Linked DNA regions of Homo sapiens: all the other regions are linked to region 1. Evidence: fine-mapped expression QTL. A gene starts in region 1. Each other region holds a variant in brackets. All regions are shown on one strand. Distances are from middle to middle. Region 1 holds the start of FOXK1 (forkhead box K1). Region 2 overlaps FOXK1 (forkhead box K1). Region 3 overlaps FOXK1 (forkhead box K1). Region 4 overlaps FOXK1 (forkhead box K1).

Region 1 (5,256 bases):
AAAAAATTGAAAAAGGCCAGGTGAGGCGGCTCCCGCCTGCAGCCCCAGCACTTTAGGAGGTCGAGGCAGGTGGATCACCTGAGGTCAGGAGTTTGAGACCAGCTTCACCAACATGGTTGAAACCCCGTCTCTACTAAAAATACAAAAATTAGCTGGGTGTGGTGGCAGATGCCTGTAATCCCAGCGACTTGGGAGGCTGAGGCAGGAGAATCGGTTGCAGTGAGCCGAGACTGCACCATTACACTCCAGCCTGGGTGACAGATTAAGACTCTGCCTTAAAAAAAAAAAAAATTAAAAATTAGTCGGGCATGGTGGCTCATAGTCCCAGCTACTTGGGAGGGTGAGGTGGGAAAATCACCTGAGCCCTGAAGGTTGAGGCTGCAGTGAGCTATGATTGTACCACTGCACTCCAGCCTGGGTGACAGAGTGAGACCCTGTCTCAAAAGAAAAAGACAAGAAAGAGAGAGAAGGAAGGAAGGGAGGGAGGGAGGGAAAGAAAGGAAGGAAGGAAGGAAGGAAGGAAGGAAGGAAGGAAGGAAGGAAGGAAGGAAGGCAGGCAGGCGGCCGGGCACGGTGGCTCCCGCCTGTAATCCCAGGACTTTGGGAGGCTGAGGCGGGCAGATCACCTGAGGTCGGGTTTTCAGGACTAGTCTGACCAACACGGAGAAACCCCATCTCTACTAAAAAAATACAAAATGAGCCGGGCCTGGTGGTACATGACTGTAATCCCAGCTACTTGGGAGGCTGAGGCAGGAGAATTGCTTGAATCCAGGGGGTGGAGGTTGCGTTGAGTCGAGATTGCGCCATTGCACTACAGCCTGGGCAACAAGAGCGAAACTCCGTCTCAAAAAAAAAAAAAAAGAAGGAAGGAAGGAAGGGAAGAAAGAAAGGAAGGAAGGAAGGAAAGGAGGAAGGAAGGAAGGAAGGAAAGGAAGGAAGGAAATGGAGGGAGGAAGGGAGGGAGGGAAGGAAGGAAAGGAAGGAAGGAAGGAAAGGAAAGGAAGGAAGGGAAGGAAAGGAAGGAAGGGAAGGGAAGGAAGGAGAGGAAGGGAAGGGAGGGAGGAAGGGAAGGAAGGAAGGAAAGAAGGGAGGGAGGGAAGGAAGGAAGGAAAGGAAGGAAGGAAAGGAAAGGAAGGAAGGAAAGGGAGGGAGGAAGGAAGAGAGGGAGGGAAGGAAGGAAGGAAAGGAAGGAAGGGAAGGGAAAGAAGGAGAGGAAGGGAAGGGAGGGAGGAAGGGAAGGAAGGAAGGAAGGAAAGAAGGGAGGGAAGGAAGGAATGAAGGGAAGGGAAGGAATGAAGGGAAGGAAGGGAAGGAAGGAAGGAAGGAAAGAAGGAAGGAAGGATGGATCAGGGATTCAGGGATGGATCTCAAGTGGTCTTCAGTTACAGTAGAGTATGATGACCTTTAATCTGAGGGCTTAAGAATGATCAGGCCTGGCACTGTGGCTCACACGGGTAATCCCAGTGCTTTGGGAGGTCGAGATAGATAGATCACTTGAGACCAGGAGTTTGAGACCAGCCTGGCCAACATAGCAAGACCCTGTCTCTATAAGAAGTAAAAAAATTAGCTGGGCGTGGTGGCACTTGTGAGGCAGAGGCAGGAGGGTGACTTGGGCACAGGAGGTGGAAGCTGCAGTGAGCTATGATTTTGCCACCGCACTGCAGCCTGGGCGACAGAGCGAGGTTAGAATATAAACATATGTATTGTATATAATACACATATATTTTATCTTCTGTCTATCTTACACTTTAGGGTTGGGGGCCTGGAGTGTCTGGGGCGGGGAGACTGCTGAGGTCATCCGTCCCTTTCTCCAATGACCCAGGCTCAAAACTTTGTGGCTGGGCATTTCAGGGGTCCCCTCTTCCCCCTGGATGGAGGAAAGGGCGCCCGCCGCCTGCAGCCCCGCGGGGAGGGGACGAGGTGCGCCGGGCCCAGCTCTCCCGGGGGCCCGCCGGCCCTCCCGGCACAGGCCTCGCCCCCAGCCCCGCGCTGGCGCGCGCCACGTGGGCTACGCTGGGCGGGACCGGCGGGCGGGCGAGGCGAGGCGCACGGTGGGCTGGGAGGCTCCGCTCCGCGCCGGCGCGATCTGGCCCGGGTTTCCGCGCCCGCCCAGCGCCCCGACCTCCCCGCCCCCCGCGCCGCCGCTGCAGCCGCCGCCGCCGGAGGCCGCTCGGAGCCGCGCGAACATGGCCGAAGTCGGCGAGGACAGCGGCGCCCGCGCCCTGCTCGCGCTGCGCTCGGCGCCCTGCAGCCCAGTGCTGTGCGCCGCAGCCGCCGCCGCCGCCTTCCCCGCGGCCGCACCCCCGCCGGCCCCCGCGCAGCCCCAGCCTCCGCCCGGGCCGCCGCCGCCGCCGCCACCGCCGCTGCCTCCGGGCGCGATCGCGGGCGCGGGCTCCTCCGGGGGCTCCTCCGGGGTATCCGGGGACTCCGCGGTCGCGGGCGCGGCGCCGGCCCTGGTGGCCGCGGCGGCCGCCTCGGTACGGCAGAGCCCGGGGCCGGCGCTGGCGCGGCTGGAGGGCCGCGAGTTCGAGTTCCTCATGCGCCAGCCCAGCGTCACCATCGGCCGCAACTCGTCGCAGGGCTCGGTGGACTTGAGCATGGGCCTGTCCAGCTTCATCTCGCGGCGCCACCTGCAGCTCAGCTTCCAGGAGCCGCACTTCTACCTGCGCTGCCTCGGCAAGAACGGCGTCTTCGTGGACGGGGCCTTCCAGAGACGCGGCGCGCCCGCCCTGCAGCTGCCCAAGCAGTGAGTGGCCCCGCGACCCCCGCCGCCCGCACCCGGGGCTCGCCCACGACCTCGATCTCTGAGGCCCGGGCCTGGGGATCCCCCTCCAGCTTCCTCGGCCTCGACCCCCACCCCCCGGCCCACCCCCGGTAACCCCCGACCGGCCTGGACTCCGGGGTCAACCCCGACCCCCGCCTCCTGGCTCCCTAGGATCACCCCGACCCCGATCCTGGAGGCTCCAGCCTGAGGATCTCCTCCACTTTCCCCGGTCTGGATACCCCGTCGCCCCCGACCCCCACCGGCCTGGACTCTGGGGTCAGCCCTGACCCACACCTTGCGGCTCCTGGGGTCACCCCTGACCTCATCTCCCACCGGCCTGGGCTCCTGGAGCCACCCATACCCCAAGCCCATCTGGCTGGGCCTCTTAGACCCCTGACCCAGATCCCTGCTGCTCCCCAGCTCCCATCGGCCTGGACTCCGGGGTCATTCTGAACTCCCACTGGCCTGGATCCCTGGGGTCATCTACGTCCCTACCCTGCCTAAACACGCAAGGTTAACCGCGACCCCCACTTCCTAGGCCCCCCCGGAGTCACCCCTGACCGCTAACCCCACAAGCCTGGGCTCGCAGGGCCACTCCCACCCCAGCTCCACCCAGCTGGGTTACTGAGGTCACCTTGACCCCAGTCCCTGCTGCCTGGGCCTGGGGATCACCCTCAACCCTTCCAGGTCACCCTGGACCCCCACCAGCTTGGACTCCAGGGTCACCCCAGCCTGACCTGGTTCTCAGGACCACCCCCGACCCCCACCAGCCAGGGCCTCAAGTCACCCCAGTGCCTGATGCCTGCCGTCCTGGACCCCAGTGGCTACCCCTGACCCTGTCTGGTCTGGACCCTTGGGCCACCCCCACCCCATCCAGTCTGGGTCCTGGGGGACCCCAACACACTCACCCAGGACAGTGGGAGGGTGTTGCTCCGGGAAGTGCGAGGTCCCTAGGAGTGTGGGCTGTGCTGAAGGAGCAGAGGCCTGGCGGGGAGGGGCGAGGACAGGAAGCCTGTGCCTCAGTTTACATCCCCAACTAGTGCTCCTTGGATGGAGTAGCGGGACCCCAAGATCAAATTAGATTCCCCCGGGCCCGAGGTCACCAGGGCAGAGAGACCCAGCTGGGCCTGGACGGCTGCCCAGGCCTGTCGGTGCCTTTGGTAGCATCCCGTGGTCACCTCCCGCCCATTCCGGTTCCCTCCTTTCCAGCTCCACTGCCCTCCGCACCCTCTGCTCTGCCCCGGACCTCAAGGTCTGTTGATCAGGAGAAAGCCTGTTTAATTACTCATTTCCTCTGGAGCCACTTTCTTTTTCTATTTAGTGATTGCCTCTAACTCATCACCAGTGTTTATATTTCTTCAATGTGGTTCTTGTTCAGGGTTGTCTGTCTAATTACTCCCTTTTATAAACGCCTTGCGTCTGGGGAATTTTTGCTGGGGTAATTCCCAGGGCCCAAAGTTTGTGTCTGTAAACTTCTCCCCTTTTTTAGTCTTGGCATGTTTGGTTACAGATATCGCATTGAATAATTTAAAATGCAACATCAACAATGACTCACTCCCCCTTGGGGCGTGAGAGGGGAAGTATACCTTTTTCTAACCGTGCTGAAAGGTGTGCATTTTGGTAAAATCAGAACTCAGGAGATAACAAATTTGTTCTTTGCCTCAGATATTAGTGTGTTCTCTCTCTTCCATAACCAATACACTCTCTCCGTTTGGGGCCATTAAATGCATTTCCTGGCCACTCTCCCCTCCAGTAAGAAAATGACAGGTAGGCTCCCCAGGCCCCCCTTAGAGGCCTGCTTTACAGACGCACCTTTATATAACTCAGGTTCACTAAGTACTTCCATTAAAGTCTTGTTTTCAGGTTTCCTGCCCCTGCCGTGGAAACAGGTGCACTCCTGAGTCAGGCCCAGCTTTAGTGAATCTTGAAGGAGGCTTTCACGGTATTTTTTTTTTGTAATTCAAGGGGAAAAAATTTCAACCTCAGATCGTCTACGAATAGGCCAGTAGCAAGCCTGTTATTTATGAAATGTTATCGGTGTATACAGTCCTTGCACATTTATGCTCCAGGGAGCTCGTGTTCTCGGTGGGTGCATTACCAGGCATTGTGGTGGGGCTGTCAGGCTACACAGATGCCCGCCCGCTGACTTGGTGCATTAGATGTGCGTGAAGTGCTTGGCCCACTGCGCCTGTCTGTTTTTATTTGACTTCACCTGCACATGTGAGCAATATCTATGTAGGCAGCAATGTAAAATTTACAAGAACAAAGCAAATGTGCAGAAGGAAAAACATTAAGTGGATGTCCATGTCCACCCTCCTAGAAAAGAGCTATTTGCTTTTTTTTTTTTTTTTTTTTCTGTCATGGAGTCTCGCTCTGTTGTCCAGACTGGAGTGCAGTGGCTCACTGCAAACTCTACCTCCCGGGTTCAAGAGATTCTCCTGCCTCAGCCTCCTGAGTGGCTGGGACTACAGGCGCACAACACCACGCCCAGC
Region 2 (5,000 bases), 74 kb after region 1:
CCTTCTCTCTCCTCAGTGTCCCCAACTCCTGCCCAGCCAGTCCACGCGGTGCCGGCTCCTCCAGTTACCGCTTTGTGCAGAACGTGACCTCGGACCTGCAGCTGGCAGCAGAGTTTGCAGCAAAGGCCGCGTCGGAGCAGCAGGCAGACACGTCTGGAGGAGACAGCCCCAAGGTCTGAGCCCACCTGGCGCCGTGGTGCACCTGGTGACCCAGGATCGGGCCATAGTGACCCGGCGCGGGCGGCACAGACAGCCCAGGGCCTGCGGGCGTGTGCTCGAGGTGGTCTCAGCCCACAGGGAATGGAGCCGCAGCTGGCGGTAGAGCCGTCGGCCCTTTCTCGTTTTCGTGCCCAAATCATCCCCGTTGGTCATTTGCTGGTGACAGGGGTGGCGCCGTCACCGAGGGCCCCTCCCGCCACGCTCCTTGTTCATCTGCCGCTGGCAGCCCGGCGTCAAAGCCTTCATACAGCCCTTGAGCAGGATGGCGTTCTCCTTATAACTTTGTCTTAGTTCATTTTTGTCCAATAGCTGTTTTCAAATTGATTTCTGGAAGAGGTGAGAAATTTCAGAATTAAATTATAATAAAACCGAAGTTTTCCTTCCCATGAGGCAAAAATGGTTGTTCCTAGTTGAATGCAAGCACATTAATGGGATAGTTGGAGGGCACTGGGACGGGTGCCGGCAAGACGCGCACATTCTCGTGGGAAGGTTCCTCCCCATCAGCTGTGACGGGTGGGTGGGGTAGACTCAGGGACCTTGCTGGAGCTCATCCCGTGAGCCGTGTTTCTCCGCAGGATGAGTCAAAGCCGCCGTTCTCCTACGCGCAGCTGATCGTGCAGGCCATCTCCTCCGCCCAGGACCGGCAGCTGACCCTGAGCGGGATCTACGCCCACATCACCAAGCATTACCCCTACTACCGGACGGCCGACAAAGGCTGGCAGGTGAAGCCGAGTCCCCAGGGCCGGATCGCCTCTGAAGGCCCTTAGAACATGGAACTCACAGGCATATTGCTTCCCTTAAAACAGAAGAGGGCCAGTGAGGGGGCTCACGCCTGGAACCCTAGCATTTTGTGAGGCCGAGGCAGGAGGAGGATCAAGACCAGCCTGTGCAACATAGAGAGAACCTCTTTTCTACTAAAAATTAGCTGAGTGTGGTGGTGCACACCTGTGGTCGCAGCTACTCGGAGGCTGAGGTGGGAGGATCACTTGAGCCCAGGAGGTGGAGGCTGCAGTGAGCTATGATCACACCACTGCACTCCAGCCTGGGAGACAGAGAAAGACCCTGTGTCTACAAAGAAAAAAAATATCTTTTTAACTAAGAAGATAAATATAAAAGAGGGATGTTTTCACGAATGGCATATGGTACATCTGAAAGGCATTAGCGCTGTGATACCATTGTGTCTAAATACTCTTTTTTATTAGTTTCCTTCTTCTGAGCCCCAGAACTGAGAAGATGGATCTACACCTTGTTAGATTTTTGTGCTTGCTGTGCCTCACAATCCCACGTTAAGTTGGAAAAATGTACCATATACTGTTATTCAAACAATCCACATGTCTGAATTGTGGATGGCATTTTAAGAGCTTTGTCCACACCAGCCATGACTGATGCATGTTGCATTTGCCTGTATTTTCTCCAATGTCAGTGTAGCGCATCCACTAGCTTTGGTTTTTTGTTTGTTTGTTTGTTTTTTGAGACAGGATCTCGCTCTGCCATCCCGGCTGGAGTGTGGTGGCGCGATCTCAGCTCACTGCAACCTTCGCCTCCCAGGTTCAAGCGATTCTTCTGCTTCAGCCTCCCAAGTAGCTGGGGCTACAGGTGCCCACCACCACACCTGGCTATTTTTTGTATTTTTAGTAGAGATGGGGTTTCACCATGTTGCCCAGGCTGGTCTCAAACTCCTGACCTCAGGTAATCCTGCCAGCCTCGGCTTCCCAAAGTGCTGGGATTACAGGCGTGAGCCACTGTGCCCGGCCAAGACCCAGTGTTTTCTTTCTCCCAGATGTGCTCCTAGACCAGGATCTGTCTTTCTGTTTCACTTTTTCTGTAAAGAATGGTAATGGCAGCCAGGCACAGTAGCTCATGCCTGTAATCCCAGCACTTTGGGAGGCCGAGGTGGAAGGATTGGTTAAGCCCAAGAGTGTGAGACCCCATCTCAACTAAAAATACAAAAAAATCAACCCAGCATGGTGGCCCACGCCCATAGTCCCAGCTAGTCAGGAGGCTGAGGCAGGAGAATCCCTTGAACCCGGGAGGCGGAACTTGCAGTGAGC[C/T]GAGATCGTGCCACTGCACTCCATCCTGGGCGACAGAATGAGACTCCGTCAAAAAAAAAAAAAAGGTAAAATGGTAATTATGCGGTGTCAAATTTTGATAGGAATGACCTGCCCTGTGCCTCGGTGCTGCTCCCGTGAGGCCCAGCCAGCACAGCACCAAGGGCTCTGCACAGAGGGACGGCCTCCCCTCACCCTGGTCCCGCATCTGCTGCAGATTTGAGGTGGGTGGGACTCATTTTCTGATTTGCTGGTGATGGGTGAATATCTCTGCTTCCCTGCAGAATTCTATCCGGCACAACCTCTCTTTGAACCGTTACTTTATCAAAGTCCCACGTTCCCAGGAGGAGCCTGGGAAGGGGTCCTTTTGGCGAATAGACCCTGCCTCTGAAGCCAAGCTCGTGGAACAGGCATTCCGGAAACGGAGGCAGAGGGGTGTCTCCTGCTTCCGCACCCCCTTCGGGCCTCTGTCCTCAAGGTAAAGTTCTCTGAGCGCCCGTCCTCCAGCTGTTAGGAAAGCTGAGCTGCCCTGGAGTTTAGAGATACGTGGCGCAGTCAGCCCTCCGGATCTGTGGGCTCAGGCTCAGTGTACGGGCATGCAACTGATCACAGGTCAAAAATATTCCAAAAAAAAGAAGGCCGGCGCGGTGGCTCACGCCTGTAATCCCAGCACTCTGGGAGGCCGAGGCAAGTGGATCACCTGAGGTCAGGGGTTTGAGACCAGCCTAGCCAACATGGTGAAACCCCTGCCTCTACTAAAAAAATTCAAAATTAGTCGGGCATGGTGGCAGGTGCCTGTAATTCCAGCTACTGGGGAGGCTGAGGTAGGAGAATCGCTTGAATCTCGGAGGCAGAAGTTGCAGTGAGCCGAGATTGTATGTACCACTGCACTGCAGCCTGGGCGACAAGAGCAAAACTCCGTCTCAAAAAAAAAAAAAAAAAAAAAAAAAAAAAAGTAATACAAATGAAACAATACACACTACAACAGCTGTTTACATAGCAGGTACATTTGTTAGGGATTATAAGTAACCTGGCGATGATTTAAAGCTTACAGGAGGATGTGCACAGGTTGTATGCAAATGCGACACCATTTCTATGAGGAACTTGGGTAAGCATCTGCAGATTTGGTACCCACAACCCCCGCCCCTCAAGTACCGAGGGGTGACTGCTGGTTTCGGCACTTAAAGACTGCACCATTTTCTGTTTTTGTTTTGAGAGAATATCTCAGGACCAAGAACTCCTAAAATAGTAAGGTTACTAAGTAAGCCACTGACTGTTGTATTAAAAATAAGATTTTAGTTCTTAGAAGTGGAAATGTGTGTAGCAATAGGAACGGTTCCTAAGGCCAAGAATAAATGGATTGCGGTTGTGGGTCTTTTGGTAGCACTAAGCTTTCTGTTGCAGTGTGTGAGAGGACCCGGGGAGAGCCCAATCTTCGAAGGGACAGATGAGGGGTATGACCTGGGGAGCCCACAACCGCCTTTGCTTTTCGCAGATGCTGGGAACGCAGCTCTGCTGCCGGCGGGGTGGACAGACCCTCCCCCAGCCATTGCTGCCCACCTGCTGCGTCAGGGCCTCCCCTGCCCAGCTCAGTCTTGGCCAAGCCCAGTCTGGAGGAGCATGCACCGCCTGTGAGCGGTCTGGGCAGCGCTTCCCAGGTTGCCCATCAGATGAGCCCGTCCCAGGTGTCGAGGAGGAGATCTCCTGAGCGGCAGTCTCGGAAATCCTTCCCCGTGGAAGGACACGTTAACCTCTCGTGCTTCCCATTTCAAAATTCTGTTTCCAACACGATTTGATGAAAGATTGAAATATCTGAAAATTCATTTCGAGCACAGGGTCTGGCATTGTGATTCTCAGGTGAACTGGGCGTATGGTTGAGGTAGGACTTCAAAAAAGTGTTCGAACGTCATTTGCAGCATTTAAACTGAGCTCCAAATGACGTTCAAACACCCCTCTCGGGTAGAGTTTTCATGGTGGAACGGTTGCGCCCACCAAACAGAAGCTTATGTTTTTGGCACAGAAGGCCTGGGCCATTTTCATGGACACCTGGCTGGACCTCGGTGGAAGTGAACTCCGTAGGTTGTTGCGTTCACTGCAGCACCTCACATGATACCGTCCCCTCTCATGGAACGGAGCCTCCCCCATGCAGCCCCCACTCAAATGGAGTTTTAAAGGCTGGGTTCAGGTTACGGGGGCGTTTCTCACCGTCTGAATGCGGAGGACAGAGACGAGCTCCAGGGAGCGTGGGCGGGTGACGGCGCTGAGATGCGTGATGTCTCGGAAACGTCCTCGCATCCCTCAGCGCGGGCGCTGACTGCCGCGGCCCTTGCCTGTCTTCCAGGAGCGCTCCAGCTTCGCCCACACACCCCGGGCTGATGTCCCCTCGCTCCGGCGGCCTGCAGACCCCAGAGTGCCTGTCTCGGGAGGGCTCCCCCATTCCACACGACCCTGAGTTTGGGTCCAAGTTAGCTTCTGTCCCAGAGTACCGGTATTCCCAAAGCGCACCCGGTAAGGAGCGGGCGGCCCTCTTGCGGGGCGGGGCGGGGCGGGACTCGTGGGGGTGCGGGAGGGGTCACCGTCCGCTCTCCGCCCTCCGTGCAGGCTCCCCCGTCAGCGCCCAGCCAGTGATCATGGCCGTGCCTCCCCGACCGTCCAGCCTCGTGGCCAAGCCCGTGGCCTACATGCCCGCCTCCATCGTAACCTCACAGCAGCCCGCGGGCCACGCCATCCACG
Region 3 (5,000 bases), 67 kb after region 1:
TCTATTGCCCAGGCTGGAGTGCAGTGGCACAGTCACAGCTCACTGCAACCTCAACCTCCCGGGCTCAAGCGATCCTCCCACTGCAGCCTCCTGAGTAGCTAGGACTACAGGCACCCACCACCACACACACCCAGCTCATTTTTTATTTTCGTTGAGATGGTGTCTTGCCCAGGCTGGTCCTGAACTCCTGGCCTCAAGCAGTCTTCCCACCTTGACCTCCCAAAGTGCCAAGATTACAAGCCTGGGCCTGTTTTTGTTGTGGTTGTTGTTGCCTTTGTTGTTTTTGTTTTGTTTTGAAGCAGGGTCTTGTTCTGACACCCAGGCCGGAGTGCAGTGGTCCGGTCACGGCTCGCTGCAGCCTCGACCTCCGGGACTCAAGCGATCCTCCCACCTCAGCCGTGACTACAGGAGCAATCCACTAGTTAATTTTTAAAAATAGCTTCCCAGCATTTTACAATGTCGGATTTATCTTAAAGGAACACATTCTTTAAGATCATTCTAAGAAATTCGCCTCTGAAAATTTTCTTTCCCTATTTGTTTATTTTTCCTTTTTCAGATTACGAAGAGACTATCTATCTATCTATATGCATCTTACAAAATGCAAACATTTCAGAAAGTGAAAATTCCCCCACACAACGCTCCCCAGAGCTGAGCCCTTCTCTCTCACTTCTGTGTCTCTGAGTCGTATTCGTACGTGACTGTCTCTTGGTTTTTCCGTTTTAGATATTACACATGAGGTTCCTATATGGAAATTAAGGATTTAGCTTCCCCCCTCCCCATCCCAGTAAAGTTACATCATCATGTCTGGTTTACCTTGCATGAGCGTTTTCTGTATTAGAACTGTGTAGTGATTGTAGCGCTTAGCCATTTCCTTCCTTGTACTTTTGGCTTATTTCCGCCACACTCCCCCCGCTCTTGGGGTTAATAATGGCCTCTTCTCCCTTTACTGTGAAGGCCTTCCTCTGGGGCCCCTCTGACCATGGGATCATCTTCTCCACCATCCTGGGAATCCCCTCAGGAGGTGGTGGTGGAGAGAGGGCTGTTTCCTGATTCCCACGTCTTCCTCTTTCCTGATTTGTTCCTTTGTTTTACCAGAGTCCATCCCCCAGTCGCTTCCTGGGAAAGGGCACAGGAGACAGACTTTTCATTTATTCACTGATTTAAGAGACAAGGTCTCACTTTGTTGCCCAGGCTGGTACTTCTGGGCTCAAGCGAGCCTCCTGCCTCAGCCTCCCGAGTAGTAGGGACTACAGGTGTGCACCACCATGCCCGGCTAATTTTTGTATTTTTTGTAGAGGTGGGGTCTCCCCATGTTGCCCAGGCTGGTCTTGAACTCCTGTGCTCAAGTTATCTGCCCACCTCAGCCTCCCAAAGCGCTGGGATTACAGGTGTGAGCCACCTCGCCTGGACCCCCAGGTTCCTGTCCACGCTTCTGGGACTGGCTGTGCCTGGCGGGCCTCTGAGCTGAGTCTCTCATGCCTCTCCTTTCCTTTCTCTCTCTACTTTCTGAGGGATTTTCTCCAGTCTCTCCTTCCACCCTTTCTTGGATTTGTATTTCTCTTCTTTTGAATTCTTATTTTTTAATTTGAAGAGCGTGTTCTTGCTCTGCAGGTGTGCTTTGCATGCTGTTCTTACTGTCCTACAGAGACGGCATCGTTACCTCCCTAGGGACGGGAACCATGTTTCATCTCCTCCCAAGCTCCCGTAGGCTTCCCTGGGTCCCTCTTCTCTTCTGTTTTGCACCATGTTCCACCTGGTAGAAGCTTCCTCAAACCACAGATGTGCCTTGGCCGGCTGTTGTGTTTAACAGTGAGGTCCTAAAAACCCTCTTAGAGCGGCTGGTATTGGAGCAGGGGCTGGGGCAGGGACCCCAAGCGTCCTCCTCTGCAGGGAGGTTCCCCCAGGAGGCTTCAGGTGCCGCCTTGGGACGCAAAGGTCATCGCAGACCCCCGCAGCCTTCTCGCCCCTCCACTGCCCACAAGGCTCCGTCGCAGCTCCTTCCTCCAGCCCCTCCAGGCGGGTCCCTCTGTGTCTCTAGGGCTTCAGGAGGGATCAGGTCCCTTCTGACAGAGCACTGTCCTCCCTGGGCCTGCCGGAAGCGATAACTGTCCCGACCCTAGGCCTCTCAGGGTGGCCTTCTCAGCCTCAGAGCAGAGCCAAGGGCATTGAGGGTGGACTGGAAGGACCGCAGCCCTGTGCCCTGGGGAAGGCTTGTCTTAGGCTCTGGGGACGGAGCCCAGCTGGCGGCTCCAGAGGTGGCTTTAGGTCTGTTGTTGGATTTGCCTTTCTCAGCGTGACTTCTCATCATAACGTGACCCAGCGACCTGTGTGTCCCACAGCCCGTCCGTCCCTCTGCAGTCTCCCTGCACTGGCATGTCCTGGGTGGTCCCAGTGGCACCTTCTAGGCCCGGCCCCTGGATGCGGTGGAGGCTGCCCGGGGTGGGTCAGCATGGGGTTGTCCCTGTGAGCACAGCTCCGGGAGACCCGTACTCAGAATCCTCCAGCTCTCTCGCCTGAGGCGGAAATGTGACTTGGGAATTGTCCTCCATATAAAGGAAGCAAAATCAGGGCCTAGGGGTGAGCTGCTTACTGTGCTTCTTCCCTCTCTCAGCCTCCAATCGGGGGGCACAGGCGTTTGATTCCCGCGACGTCTGTGGGCTGTCACTGTCCAGCCTCTGCGTCCCACACCTGGGCAGCTAGGGACTGGGGGGGGCCTGACCGAGGCCTGGGGTACTTACCCCAGAAGGAGTGATTCCCTGTTTCCTGGAATTGAGCTGGTGGTCCCTGTCAGGGAGCAGTGGGGTCCCCTCAGCTTCCTGCTCTTTCTCATTCCCGCAGGAGGAAATGTGTGCACGTGTATGC[C/T]GTCGTTTTCAGCACTTTTTTTTTTTTTTTGAGACAGAATCTCGCTCTGTCGCCCAGGCTGGAGTGCAGTGGCACGATCTCTGCTCACTGCAAGCTCCGCCTCCCAGGTTCACGCCATTCTCCTGCCTCAGCCTCCCAAGTAGCTGGGACTACAAGTGCCCGCCACCACACCCAGCTAATTTTGTTTTCTGTATTTTTTAGTAGAGACAGGATTTCACCGTGTTAGCCAGGATGGTCTCGATCTCCTAACCTCGTCATCCACCCGCCTCGGTCTCCCATCTTTTTTTTTTTGAGACAGAGTTTCACTCTTGTTGTCCAGGCTGGAGTACAATGGCATAATCTCGGCTCACTGCAACCTCTGCCTCCCGGGTTCAAGCAATTCTCCTTCCTCAGCCTCCCGAGTAGCTGGGATTACAGGCATGCACCACCACGTCTGGCTGATTTTGCATTTTCAGTAGAGACGGGATTTCTCTAAATCGGGCAGGCTGGTCTCGAACTCCTGACCTTAGGTGATCTGCCCACCTCGGCCCCCTCAAAGTGCTGGGATTACAGGCGTGAGCCACCGTGCCTGGCCTTCAGCACTTTTTTTTTTTTTTTTTTTTGAGATGGAGTCTTGCTCTGTCGCCCAGGCTGGAGTGCAGTGGCGCAATCTCGACTCACTGCAAACTCCACCTCCCAGGTTCATGCCATTCTCCTGCCTCAGCCTCCAGAGTAGCTGGTACTACAGGCACCTGCCACCATGCCCGGCTAATTTTTTGTATTTTTTTTTTAGTAGAGACGGGGTTTCACTGTGTTAGCCAGGATGGTCTCGCTCTCCTGACCTCATGATCCACCCTCCTCGGGTAATCCCAAAAGCATTGGGATTACCAATCCCAAAGCACTGGGATTACAAGCGTGAGCCACCGTGCCCGGCCCAGCATTTTCTTTAGATTGCTAAGGGAATGTTTCCGTGGACTCCCAGCATCAGACATGGGATGTCTTGATTAGTTTTCCGGATGGCTCCAAGGCCTCTGGCTTTGGAGCTGGGTGTCCCATCCCACCCTGGCTGGGCGCCCTCAGACCTGTCTTCCCCCAGGGCACTTTACAGCTCTTAGCGGCTGTGAGGCTCGAGCAGCCTCTGCTTCCCGCCTCCGTCAGCTGCAGGCCTGGTATCGGGGGCCTTGGTATCAGGAGCCTGGTACCAGGCACAGCCCCGTGGCCGAGGCCCGCCTGCGGAGGACAGTTGAATGGGGCTTATTGAGAGACGGGCTGCTCCGAGGGCTGGAGGAGCCATGTGAACAAACACATGTGGTCCCTCAGCCCAGGTGGCTGGAAAACCTCAGAAGCTGCGCTGTCGTACCTGTCCCGGCTGGAGTGACACCAGGATCCGGCAGCCCAGGCCAGGTCCAGTGCTGGGGAAAGTGGCGGAGAAACCACCCTACTCTCTCGCCTGTGGGAGCCAGGCTTCGCCAACCTTTCTTATTTCCACTTGAAATCATTCTCTGGGGAATGACAACTTTTCCTGTGGGTTTTACTCCATGAGGTTTTTTGTTTGTTTTTTGAGATAAGGTCTCACTCTGTTGCCCAGGCTAGAGTGCAGTGGTGTGATCATAGCTCACTGCAGCCTCGACCTCCCAGGCTCAAGCCATCTTCCTGCCTCAGCCTCCTGAACAGCTGGAACTGCAGGTGTGCATTACCACGCCCAGCTAATTTTTAAAATGTTAAAACTTTGTTTATTTATGTATTTATTTATTTATTTTTAGAGACAGGGTCTTGCTCCGCCAGAGTGCAGTGGCACAATTATAGCTCACTGTAGCCTCAAACTCCTAGGCTCAAGCAGTCCTCCTGCCTCAGCCTCCTGAGTAGCTGAGACTACAGGTGCACACCACCACACCTGTCTAATGTTAATATTTTTGTAGAGATGGGGGTGTCACTATGTTGCCCAGGCTAGTTTCGACCATGTGGGCTCAAGCGATCCTCCTGCCTGGGCCTCCCAAATTGCTGGGCTTACAGGCATGAGCCACCGCACCCGGCAGACATGAATTTTCTATGATCTTCTGCAAAATAACTGCTGGGAACAGGAGCAGGTCCCTGCCACACGTGCTGGGCCATCACTGTTTGTTGTGGAGTGCTGGGGGGTGCCCCTCATTGGTCCTCAG
Region 4 (5,256 bases), 90 kb after region 1:
TGGTTTGCCCTGTGTCAGACACGGTGAAAAGAGTGCAGGAAAGCTGGGGCCAGGGGAAGCGAAGTGGCTTCAATCCGGGCTGACAGCCAAGAAGAGTTTTCCTCCCTTCGGTGACAGGGCCTGCCCCTCCGAGTCTAGAGGTAAAAGCAGCTTCTAGAACTGGCCCCTAAGTCTCCAAATGTGTTGGCTAAGCTGAAATGAGAGACTCTGAATTAGAGTTTTTGTTTGTTTGTTTGTTCTCTGCATGAAGTTCACAGGCCTGTATGGATGTTAAATTGTGTCTATAGCCTCTAAATCTCCAGGTTAACTGGTCCAGATTTTTTTTTTTTAATCAGTAACAATGGGAATTTAAAATCAAATATTTGGCCAGGTGCGGTGGCTCATGCCCGTAATCCCAGCACTTTGGGAGGCCGAGGCAGGCGCATCACCTGAGGAGTTTGAGACCAGCCTGACCAACATGGTGAAATCCTGTCTCTACTAAAAATACAAAAAATTAGCCAGGCGTGGTGGCGTGTGCCTGTAATCCCAGCTACCAGGGAGGCTGAGGCATGAGAATCGCTTGAACCTGGGAGATGGAGGTTGCAGTGAGCCGAGATCATGCCACTGCACTCCAGCCTGGGCAACAGAGGGAGACTCTGTCTCAAAAATAATAATCAAATCAAGTATTTTAAGTTTGGCTCTTCTTTTTTTCAAGAAAGGCTTTTTGGATACCTAGAATACCTTCATGTATGTGGCTTGATTTCTGTTTCAGGAAAAGGGGGGCGGGAGGAGAGACAACAGCCGTGTTCCAGAGTCTGTCCTGAGATGTCGCTGAGTCCAGACACTTGGGCTGCACGTGCCCTGCAGATGACAAAGGCCGGCAGCTCAGCACACGTGCAGGAGGGGTTAAAGCCAATATTGAGTTTTTGTTCTTGTTGTTTTAATCTGAACGATTATTCTCCTGTAAAAATAATTTGGGAGGGGCGGGTGTTGTTCGGTGTGTGTGTGTGTGTGTGTGTGTGTGTGTGTGTGTGTATTTTTTTTTTTACAGTGGCGCCTGTCTAAAGTATTTTTCACAACATGTTTGATAATCAGTGCTTTAAAAAGCAGCAGTGTCCTATGAAGTGGAAATGTCAGTTCTAGAGCATTGGATGTGAAGTTCTGGTCATGTCACCTTGCGTGTCTCACCCTGGAGGAGTGAAGGTGGGCGCCCGGCGGGGGGGTGTGGCTGCACCCCAGCACCGGGAGGGGGCACGCACGACACCAGAGGAAGGGACAGCCCCACCCATGTCAACAGCAGGCAACCTGTGTTTTCATTTCAAGTGGGATACAGTATTTTTTTAATAAGGAGCCATACTTTTTTTTAAGAGTTTGAGATCTGAATGTGATTTCTAATTGTATCAGACGTTAATGTTTTAAAGCTATAACAAAGTTTAAAATTTCTACTTTTTGTTTTTCATTTATTTTAACTGTTCTTTTATCTATTAAATTGTTGTATGTGGATGGGGAAGTTTTGTTTCTCCTCTTAGCATTTGTTTCTATAACCAGAAATAAAATTCTATATTAAAGAAATGACCCTGCGGCTCCGGTGTGGTCCTTCTGCGCAGGTGGCTACTGAAGGTGGCGGACGGACAGACGGCCTGGACACACAGACACCAGGCCCCTGGACACATAGGCTCCCGACCCCCTGGATACACAAACACCTGACCCCCTGGACACACAGGCTCCTGACCCCCGGACACACAGACCCCTGAGCCCCTAGACATACAGGCACCTGGCCCCCTGGACACAGAGGCTCCCGACCCCCTAGACATACAGGCTCCCGGCCCCCTGGACACACAGGCCCCTGACCCCCTGGACACACAGGCCCCTGACCCCCTGGACACACAGACCCCTGACCCCTGGACACACAGACCCCTGAGCCCCTGGACATACAGGCTCCCGGCCCCCTAGACACACAGGCTCCCGACCCCCTGGACACACAGACCCCTGACCCCTGGACACACAGACCCCTGAGCCCCTGGACATACAGGCTCCCGGCCCCCTGGACACACAGGCACTGCGCCCCCCTGCTCCAGAGGCTGAAGGGCGGCTGCTGATAAGGGAAGTCGCCCATAGGTCCCTGGTGTCCCGTTCCTGGCTCACACAGGAGATGCTTCTGCAGGTGCCTGTGGCTCCTGGAGTCAGTGACCCCCACCCACTGAGAGTGCTCTAAGCGAGGATGTTTGCAGCTCCAGGAATGTGAAGACAACGTGTGTCTCCCCTCAGACATGGCAAAGGCAGAAACCAGCTGAGCCAACCCCCTGCCCCTGGCACACGCCCACATCCTGGCTGGGGGGCACTTGCAGGTACTCGTTGCTGCCCCAGTGGCTCCTGGGCAACTGTGGGTCCTTCCTGCTGGCCCTTGGCTAGATGAGAATTTCTACCCATGTCCAAGATGGGTAGAAATGTACGTGGGTAGAAATTCTCTCAGGCCTTACTTATTGTAGGTGTGGGGCCTGGGGGGTGGGGATGGCATTGACTTTGGAACTACACAGACCTGGGTTCAAGTTCCTACTGTGTCCTTACCAGCTGTGGGACTTCAGCTTGCAATGCGCCCCACTTCTTCACATGCAGCACAGGCACCCCCACCCCACAGGCCTGGCGCCCCGAAGCTCAGCTGCGATGCCATCAGTCACTGTCTCTTCTGAGAGTCCCCCAGACTTATGAGACCCTTGGGTGTGTCTGTGTGACTGCCTCCGACAGACTTGACAGTGGTGCATGCTTGTCACATGTCTCTCTTCTGTCAAGGTTCTGTAGTGTTTGCATGTGACTCCCTCAGTTCAATAACTTGCATTTTTCCGATGGCACAGT[T/A]ACCCACCATTGCAGGTAAGGTTTCACTGCTTCTCTGTCTTCCTTCAAGTTACTCCATTTCCATTGTAAGAGGTTAACATAACTTTAACAGATTAGTTCTAGTTTAAGATGTCAGCCCAGGCTGGGCGCGGTGGCTCACGCCTGTAATCCCAGCACTTTGGGAGGCCAAGGCGGGTGGATCATTTGAGGTCAGCAGTTCAAGACCAGCCTGGACAACATGGTAAAACCCCGTCTCTACTAAAAAAAATACAAAAAATTAACTAGGCATGGTGGCTTGCACCTGTAATCCCAGTTACCTGGGAGGCTGAGGCAGGAGAACTGCTTGAACCCAGGAGGTGGACGTTGCAGTGAGCTGAGATCACGCCACTGCACTCCAGCCTGGGGGACACAGCAAGACTCAGTCTCAAAAAAAAAAAAAAAGAAAAAAAAGAAAAACATTTTAGCCCAATAGCAAACATGAGTGAGAAGCGTATGTAGGCTTCCTCCAGGGATCTGCGTTGGCTAATTATTAATTGCATCTTTCCTTTTTAAGATGTTGTCTTTGTGTTTGTTTGTTTGCTTGCTTGTTTAGAGACAGGGTCTTGCCATGTTGCCCAGGCTGGTCTTGAACTGGGCTCAAGCGATCCTCCTGCCTCGACCTCCCAGTGTTTGGATTACAGGTGTGAGCCACCGTGCCTGGCCTTTTTTGCTTTTGATTAGCACAACCATTTTTCACTAGTGAGACCTTAAAATAATATTTTACACTAATGTAAATATTTTGTAAGAAACAAGTCAAATATTACCCCTGGTAAAATTGCTTAAGGTCGTGTCTGTGTGAAGAGAGAGAGGGAGAGAGAGATTGAGATTCCTGGCACACAGTTGGAATCTCAGTTAAAGTTAGCTTCCCTGTGAACCTGGTATCTATACAACAAAGAGGGGTGCATCTCTCAGAACCCCAGAAGACATACAATTGTGCACTGCAGCTCTATTCGTTATTGTCAAAATCTGGAAACCGACCAAATATTCATGGACGAACAAGAAAAGCTAAGTACGGTACGATTCCATTTGCATGAAGTATAAAAAGACGCAAAACTAATCTCTGGTGATAAGAGAGACTAGCAGTTACTTGTGGGGGAAGGGAGTGGGCGTTGACTGGGAGGGGGCCACAGCGGGGAACCTCTGGGGAGCTGGAAATGGTCTAGGTCTTGAACTCAAACCATGGCAGGAACATTTACACCACAGAAATTATCAAACACAAATCAACCCCCGGCTCCCCACCGTCGCCAATGGAGCCGAGGCTTAAGACATTTGCAAATTTACCACCGATTTCTAGAAATGTAAATAGTGGAGTTCATTTAAGATTTGTGCGCTTTGGTGTGGACGTTTTACCCTAGTAAACGTTAAACACTGGCAGTAGGCTTTCCATAGACTACCTGTCACCAGCTTTCCTTTGCCAGTCTTCAACCTGCGGCTCCAGGGGCACCCGCCGCACTCCACCGACTCCCATCCACCGCTCACCATCCACCGATTCCCATCTCTTCATTCTCTGCACCAGGTGCCCTCAGACATCACTGGGCGCCCTAGGGCATCTCAAAGCCATGTTTGGAACTCCTGCAGGAAGCCCTCCCTCCTCCTCCTCCTTCCTTCCATCCAGGGGTCTTCTCGGGGCTTATCCCTTCAAGGCCTAACCTTGACCCACCCTATCTACGCAACATTGATTCCCACCCCTACCCTATTCCCCAGAACCTTCAGCAGTGCCTAGCGCAGCTAGGACTCAATCATCGCTTGTCCACTTAATGAATGACTCTTGGCACAAATTTCCTCGTCCTTTTCTGCCCCAGACAGACACCCCACAAACATGAAGTTACCCTTGATTTTTCCACTTTCTTCCTCCTGCCTGCAAATTCCTCAATCACAGGTGGTGCAAATCCTACCTCTAAATGGTACTGAATCTGCCTACTTTCGGGGCAACCTCCCTTACCTGGACCACAACTGCACCAGCCTCCTTTCTCCCTCAGGAGCTTCCCAATCCATTATCTCCCCTGCGGCCAGAGATCAGTTTCCTCCTGGGGTGCATTTAAGCCATAGGAAGCAGATCGCTACCCTAGGCCCGTCCCTCCCCACCCCTTGGTCTGGACACCCTCTGGGCTCATCTTAGGCCGCAGTCGCCGAAGCCTTCCTCCTCCGGTTGGACCCCCAACCAGGTCAGGCTGTCATAGCGTTTATCATGACGCTGGCGTGTCGCCCTGTGTCCCTCGGCCGTCTGCAGGATGGCAAACTTATGGCCAGGGCCCAGCACATTTGGGCACCCAACACATCCGTTAGAATGAACAGAAACTTCCCCTCTCCGAGCCTGTGGCCTCATCTGTAAAACAGAGATCGCGAGATCCCATGAATACCGTGGGGATTGAATAAGGGATTTTTTCGTTTCAAGCAGCAGGAACA

What was found.
Region 2: its variant is fine-mapped to the expression of FOXK1 in pancreas (GTEx, PIP 0.92).
Region 3: its variant is fine-mapped to the expression of FOXK1 in whole blood (TOPMed, PIP above 0.99).
Region 4: its variant is fine-mapped to the expression of FOXK1 in whole blood (INTERVAL, PIP 0.97).

The regions. Positions count from the first base shown.
Region 1 is chr7:4,680,123-4,685,378 of GRCh38, forward strand. It overlaps FOXK1 (forkhead box K1), which reads left to right and starts at 2,173. Exons shown (of 9, transcript NM_001037165.2): 1 at 2,173-2,746. The coding sequence starts at 2,187. RefSeq lists enhancers at 1,174-1,674, 1,876-2,170, 3,030-3,557 and silencers at 1,884-2,253, 2,404-2,473.
Region 2 is chr7:4,754,443-4,759,442 of GRCh38, forward strand. FOXK1 (forkhead box K1) reads left to right here. Exons shown (of 9, transcript NM_001037165.2): 3 at 17-173; 4 at 795-941; 5 at 2,552-2,745; 6 at 4,609-4,775; 7 at 4,869-5,000. Among named protein-coding and RNA genes, the nearest start is that of AP5Z1, 19 kb to the right of the region's middle. The variant C/T (reference allele first, on the strand shown) is at 2,271.
Region 3 is chr7:4,747,569-4,752,568 of GRCh38, forward strand. The region is part of intron 2 of FOXK1 (forkhead box K1); the gene reads left to right. Among named protein-coding and RNA genes, the nearest start is that of AP5Z1, 26 kb to the right of the region's middle. RefSeq lists an enhancer at 2,276-2,775. The variant C/T (reference allele first, on the strand shown) is at 2,863.
Region 4 is chr7:4,769,889-4,775,144 of GRCh38, forward strand. FOXK1 (forkhead box K1) reads left to right here. Exons shown (of 9, transcript NM_001037165.2): 9 at 1-1,554. Among named protein-coding and RNA genes, the nearest start is that of AP5Z1, 3.1 kb to the right of the region's middle. RefSeq lists enhancers at 4,477-5,153, 5,154-5,256, 5,204-5,253. The variant T/A (reference allele first, on the strand shown) is at 2,833.